2 linked regions of the Homo sapiens genome follow. The protein of the gene in region 2 purifies or fractionates together with the protein of the main gene of each other region. This does not show direct contact. Each region holds a gene or a part of one and is shown on either strand. Other genes may lie near its edges.

Region 1 (3,654 bases), on a different chromosome or scaffold from region 2:
AGCCTGGACAACAAGAGTGAAACTCCGTCTCAAAAAAAAAAATAAAAAAAAGTAGCTAAAGCCATATGCAGTGCAACAGTCTCTTAGGTTAGATGCTTGTGAAAACATATTAGGTGAAAACTGCATATAGCCAAAATTACCCTAGAATATCCCTTTATGAAGATGTCATATGGGAGACCAGCATGTCAGCTCTCATTTAAGCCCAGACATAGCCAGGAACGCTGTACTCCGTTTGTAACATGAAGTAACTGGGTTGTATTTAGGGGCTATGTTTTATGAAAACTTATCTTTGGATACCAGAACCCCACTTCACATGATTGGATGCTCACACAAGAATTCAGGGCAACTATAGAAAAGCAGGTGCATGTCTCTCATCTCTCTCTCTCTCTGTGGGGCATAGGTTCATTGAATAGAAGAGTGGGCAGAACAGTCCACACCATTTACATGATCTCTCTTTTTTAGGCTACACATGTATGGCTGAATTTATATGATGCAGTTCCACTGCTATGCTTATCATACAGCAATGAAATACATATCTTTACCTAACTGCTCCCAAGTAGCCTGTGATAACAAGGACCATCTCTTACTTTTTATTTATTTTTTTGAGACAGGGTCTCGCTCTGTTGCATAGGATGAGTGTAGTGGCACAATCATGGCTCACTGTAGCCTCAAATTCTCGGGCTCAAGCGATCCTCCCACCTCAGCCTCCTGAGTAGCTAGGGCCACAGTTGTGCACCACCACGTCTGGCTGATTTTTTATTTTTACTTTTTTAGTGACAGGGTCTTGCTATATTGCCCAGGCTGGTCTCAAACTCCTGGGCTCAAGTGATCCTCGTGCCTTGGCCTCCCAAAGTGCTGGGATTACAGGAATGAACCATTGTGCCTGGCCCATCTCTTACTTTTTTATTAAATAAATACATGATAAAAAATCCCCAGAGCCTAATACATTGCTTGGCACAGGGCAGATGTCACTAAGTCCTTACTGAATGAATGAATCAAAGTACAGCCTCCCATATCCTGACTAAAACATGGAAATTGCCTTGTTACATAGCACTTACTAGTTTGCAGATTAAATTTTCTCCCAGCAGATACTCCTCTGGGGCTAGGTTAAGTATTTCAAGTAATTATTTGCTGATTTTCTCCTGCCCCCATTTTCATGGTCAAGACCCTGGTTTGTGGCTCACCAGTGGGGAAGCTTTCTAAAGAGACCTGCACCCTTGCCTGTTTATTCAGCAGAGGACTTTTAACACTTATCTAATCTCTTGGTTTTATAAAATATTATTTTGTCCTAAGAAATAACTCAATTACTGGGAAGATCTAACTTAATGCATTTTAAGGAACAATACTAAAAAACTATAAAGAAATTCTGGGTATCTGAGAAAGTACATGACAAAATATTTAAAGGGAATTACTTTTCATAAGCAAGACTGGTCTATATTTTCCATTTTTTTAAAATTTATTTTTATTTATTTATTTTTTTGAGATGGAATCTTACTCTGTTGCCCAGGCTGGAGTGCAGTGGTGCAATCTCAGCTCATTGCAACCTCAGCCTCCTGGTTCAAGCGATTCTTGATTCTCGTGCCTCAGCCTCCCAAGTAGCTAGGATTACAAGTGTACACCACCACACCAGGCAAATTTTTGTATTTTTAGTAGAGACAGGGTTTCACCATTTTGGCCAGGCTGATCTGCCTGCCTTGGCCTCCCAAAGTGCTGGGATTACAGGTGCGCCCAGCTACAATTTTGTGTTATTTTGATTTTATACCAGTGTTAGGCTAGCCTGTTAGAATGAGTTAAGCATTCTGTCTTTTATGTGTACTAACACATAAACAGAATTTATATTTAACATGGAAAAAAAGGAACCAGTAACTCACCTTTACTGCATTGCCACCACCTTTGGGACCTTGAGCCTTCTTGTCAGCACTGTCACTCCCAGAGGCTGCTCCCCCTTTAGAGAAGAGATGACAGGTACTCATTTAAACTGCACCTCCATGTTTACAGAAAGGTCCAACACACAACCGGAGTGGATATTTCCATCATAACGCCACACTTCAAAAGGGAACTCGGCCAGACACTTTACAACAAGGGTATCCAACCTTTCAGCTTCCCTGGGCCACAATGGAAGAATTATCTTGGGCCACACAAAATACGCTAACACTAATGATAGTTGACAAGCTAAAAAAAAAAAAAATCACAAATAAAAATCTCATAATGTTTTAAGAAAGTTTGCAAATTTGTGTTGGGCTGCATTCAAAGCCATCCTGGGCCGTATGCAGCCCGTGGGCCGTGGGTTGGACAAGCTTGCTTTACAACATCAAGCTAAATTAATCTGACCCATCTTTCTTCAAACAGGAAATCTGTGCCCTATATAAACCCTTCACAGAAAATGGATACACAAATGAGTGTGCTAATAGGTGAATGAAAGCTCCGGAAGCCTGGCCCAGATTCTTTGCATCCAATTTAACACCCTGCCTTCTGAGGGCAGACTCCTAAGTTCTTGTAAGAGTTCTATCATGTACCACAACTATGTGTTCAAGCATCACAATTCCAGTAAGTAAAATCTCTAAGAATACATTTTTTAAAAAGATCAAATTTCCCACTACCCATTTTTGGCTAAAGAATACATTCATGTCCAAATTTCTAGAGTCTACTACATTGCCTATTGATGTCTTCCTAGAACCATTAGCAGCATCTTACATTTTACTAGTATGTCATTTTACTACTATGGTAACTTCTGTGTCAATGGCAGCCTACATACTGCTAGAGGCTGATGTTCCTAAGAATTACAGTTGAATTAAGGGCTCAGTTCAATAAACATTTCCTATACAACTACTGAGTTCCAGGCACTGGGAGTACAAAGATGAACAAGCCATGTACCTTCCTTCAGAAAACTCATATTCTAGTGAGGAAGACGGATCATTTCAGGAGAATGCAGGAGATGCAGAGATGGTTATGGACAGGGGGCTGTGGAAGCACAGAGGGACACTGGAGCCAGCCAGGGAAGGTTTCCTGGATGAGTAGGAGCTGGTTAGCCAAAGAAAGGATGAGGAGACACTCCAGAATGGGGGAAACGACATGGTATGTGTAAGAAATTGTATGGATGAAGCCAAATCTGAGGTGGGAGTGCACTCAGATGAGCCTGCCTGAGGGAGGTAGCTGAGGGTCAGGGCATTGAGGCCTTTTGGCCCCATTAAGGAGCTTGGGACTTATCCTAGACGTAATAGGGAGCCATTGAAAAGTTGTTTTTTTTTTTTTTTTTTTGAGACGGAGTCTCGCTCTGTCTGTCGCCCAGGCTGGAGTGCAGTGGCGCGATTTCGGCTCACTGCAAGCTCCGCCTCCCGGGTTCATGCCATTCTCCTGCCTCAGCCTCCCGAGTAGCTGGGACTACAGGCGCCTGCCACCACGCCCCGCTAATTTTTTTTGTATTTTTAGTAGAGACAGGGTTTCACCCTGTTAGCCAGGATGGTCTCGATCTCCTGACCTCGTGATCTGCGAGCCTCGGCCTCCCAAAGTGCTGGGATTACAGGCGTGAGCCACCGCGCCTGGCCGCCATTGAAAAGTTTTAAGCAAGAGTCTCCATCTTGCTTGTCTTAGTATCTCCAAGCCTAGCACAATGCCTGGCACACAAAAGGTGTTTTAATAAATGTTTGATTAAAC
Region 2 (3,654 bases):
AGAAGAATCGCTTGAACCCGGGAGGCAGAGGTTGCGGTGAGCCGAGATTGCGCCACTGCACTCCAGCCTGGGCGACAGAGACTCCATCTCAAAAAAAAAAATTTTAGAAAGAAATAAACTAGCTAAACTATTCCACAATAAAGAAATGATTAAATAAATTATATGGAATTTTTTTTACCCCCCAGTCTATTATTTTATAACCAGTTCATAAAAAGTTTCTTGGGGGGTGACATATTACTTACACATCTATTGTGTAGTAAACATGTATGTATATGTGTGTGTACCCAACTACTTTGTTGGAGTGATTGCTGTGGTTTGGAACTGCTGGGGCCAAATTTATGCACAAATCTACATTTTTGAGTAAACTCCTCATGACTAGAGTAAGTTTCCTCAGTATTTGAGAATTCTTCATTTTCTAAAGCTGTACCAACATCAGATATCAATATTTGTAAGCACAAATAATGTAATTTATAATAAAATTGCTTTCTCAACTATTAGTATTAACTATATATCATCTTCATATAGCCTTATAACTCATTTGTACTATTCCATTTTCCTCTGTTCCTTTTATTTTCACTTTCCGTGTAATGTTAGTCTGTACTGAGTTCTGAAGAGTTCATTTATGATTAAAGATGTTAACAGATTTAACATCTTGTCAAGCATTGCAAAAAAAAAAAAAGAATTTCTCTCTCTCTCTTTTTTTTTTTTTTTTTTTTTTGGACAGGCGCGGTGGCTCACACCTATAATCCTAGCACTTTGGGAGGCCGCGACAGGTGGATCGCCTGAGCTCAGGAGTTCGAGACCAACCTGAACAATATGGCAAAACCCCGTCTCTACTAAAAATACAAAAATTAGCCAAGCATGGAGGCAGGCACCTGTAATCTCAGCTACTCGGGAGGCTGAGGCAAGAGAAACACTTGAATCTGGGAGGCGGAGGTGCAGTGAGCCAAGATTGCACCATTACACTCCAGCTTAGGTGACAGAGTGAGACTTCATCTCAAAAAAAAAAAAAAAAAAGCATTTAAAACAGCACTGAGGCTGGACATGGTGGCGAATGGCTGTAATCCTAGCACTATGGGAGCCCAAGGTGGGCAAATCGTTTGAACCCAGGAGTTCAAGGGTGCAGTAAGCCATGATTGCACCACTGCACTCTAGCCTGGGTGACAGTGAGACCCTGTCTCAAAAAAATAAAATAAAATAAAATCGTATTGAGCTGAGCCAGGTGTGGTGTCATATGCCTGTAATCCCATCTACTCCAGAGGCTGAGCAGGTCAAGGAGATCACTTAAGCCCACGAGTTCTAAGCCAGCCTGGGCAACATAATGAGGCCCCATCTCTTTAAAAAAGAAAAAGAAGAAGAAGAAGAAGAAGGATTAAGTGTATGATGCTCCCTGTTTTTAAGCAAAACAGTTTGAGTGTAAACAGGAGTGGCTATTTCTCTTAGGTGGGATTATATATGATTATTCTTGCTTTCTGTACATTTGCAACAAATATGATTTACTTTTATAACCAGGAAAAGTTTAAAGCTATAAAATTAAGAAAATCAAAAAGTATATTCATTTATCTAAAATCTTGTGATCTTTGTTTTGTTGTTGTTGGGTTTTTGGCATTTATTATAGTGAAACAGAAGTTTTAACAAGTAGTTTAAATCAAGAATCCTAGGCTGGGCGCAGTGGCTCACGCCTGTAATCCCAGCACTTTGGGAGGCTGAGGCGGGTGGATCACAAGGTCAGGAGTTCGAGACCAGCCTGGCCAACATGGTGAAACCCCATCTCTACTAAGAATACAAATATTAGCCAGGCACAGTGGTGGGCACCTGTAATCCCACCTACTCGGGAGGCTGAGGCAGGAGAATTGCTTGAACCTGGGAGAAGGAGGTTGCAGTGGGTCAAGATCGCGCCACTGCACTCCAGCCTGGGGGACAGAGCAAGACTCCGTCTCAAAAAAAAAAAAAAAAAAAAAGAATCCTAAACTTATTAGAGCTAGCCACCCCTTCACATCTGAAATTAAATCCTTATATATTTGGGTTGCTAAAAGATGATGAAAGATATGTGACCATCTCACTTTCCTTAACATGCTGTCTCTCCAGTTCTGCTCGGTACAATCACCCAAGTTTAAAGACAATCTATATACAGGTTACATATCCCTAATCCAAAAATGCAAAATCCAAAATGCTCCAAAATCTGAAACTTTCTGAGAGTCAACTGATGCTCAAAGAAAATGCTCATTAACATTCTGAATTTTCTAATTTGGGATGCTTCAACCAGTAAGTAAGCAGAATGTATGTATATATTCCAAAATCCCAAAAAAATCCAAAATCCAAAAAACTTCTGGTCCCAAGCATTTTGGATAAGGAATACTCAATTTTGTACTATACAGATTCCATCACTTTACTCCACCATTTTTCTCAATCCTAACTATGATATAAATTAGGTATGTATTCTGATGTAGGTATGCCTGCAGCTATGCAAATCTCCCCCATTACAGAGGCCCTAGCAACATCAATCGGCTCACCTCAAATGGGTTCAAATTGAAGTAAGAGGAACCAGGACGGGTCAGTCTTTCAATCTGATTTTTCGAAGTTAGAACCGAGTCTCTCTTCTCTATTTGTTTCACCTAAAATTATGAGGATTAAAAACTTCATTAATAGAATTCAATAACAAACTGAATTATCTTAACAAAATGTTCACTGATATGTTCAACAAACATTTATTTGTGTGTTTACCATGTGCAAGACATTTTGCTAAATGCTTTGAGAAATTAAAACTACCATTTGTTGAATTTTAATATAAAAACCTTACATGTATTTATTAATCTCAACAACCCTATGTGGTAGATACTGCTGTTATACCCAATTCACAGATAAGAATACTGAGGCTTAGAGAAGGTAACTGACTTGTTCCCAATTACCCAACTTGTAAGCCAGAATTTTAACCCCAACAGTTTGACCCCACAGCAGGCATCAAGAGGATTCAAAGATAAATAAGTCACAGCCTTTAAAGAACTTCCACTTTAATGATGGAAGATGTGCTTGTGTGTGATTATACTTCATTTATAGCTTTTAATTTTAAGAAAAAAAAAATAGGCTGGGCACAGTGGCTCACGCCTGTAATCCCAACACTTTGGGAGGCTGGGGGGTGGGCAGATCATGAGGTCAGGAGATGGAGTCCATCCTGGCCAACATGGTGAAACCCCGTCTCTACTAAAAATACAAAAAATTAGCTGGGCATGGTGGCATGGCGTGTAGTCCCAGCTACTTGGGAGGCTGAGGCAGGAGAATCGCTTGAACCCCAGGGACAGAGGTTGCAGTGAGCCAAGATCGCGCCACTGGACTCCAGCCTGGGAGACACAGCGAGACTCCGTCTCAAAAAAGAAAAAAAAAAAGTAAGAGATTTCTCTGTGAGGAAAAAAAATAAAGAAAAAAATTTAAAGAGCAAAAAAAGGAAAAATACAATCACAGTAAGACATAAACTATGAGCAGCATTTAAAACTGTTGATGGGAAGGAACAAACAACTCCACCACCTAATTCTAATAGTGTTAGAAAAAATCCCTGACTTGGCCAGGCGGAGTAGCTGTCACCTGTAATCCCAACATTTTGGGAGGCTGAGGTGGGTGGATTGCTTGAGCTCAGGAGTTTGAGACAAGCCTGGGCAA

What was found. Proteins that work in one complex are often made in the same cells at the same time.
Region 1: the proteins of DNAJC8 (region 2) and PIN4 fractionate together in Homo sapiens (co-fractionation; one large-scale study listed by BioGRID). This does not show direct contact.

Annotation. Positions count from the first base shown.
Region 1 is NC_000023.11:72,184,752-72,188,405, reverse strand, and holds part of PIN4 (peptidyl-prolyl cis-trans isomerase NIMA-interacting 4), read right to left. Parts: intron 1,946-3,654; coding exon 1,872-1,945; intron 1-1,871.
Region 2 is NC_000001.11:28,226,409-28,230,062, forward strand, and holds part of DNAJC8 (dnaJ homolog subfamily C member 8), read right to left. Parts: intron 2,616-3,654; coding exon 2,514-2,615; intron 1-2,513. UniProt on the Homo sapiens protein: Suppresses polyglutamine (polyQ) aggregation of ATXN3 in neuronal cells.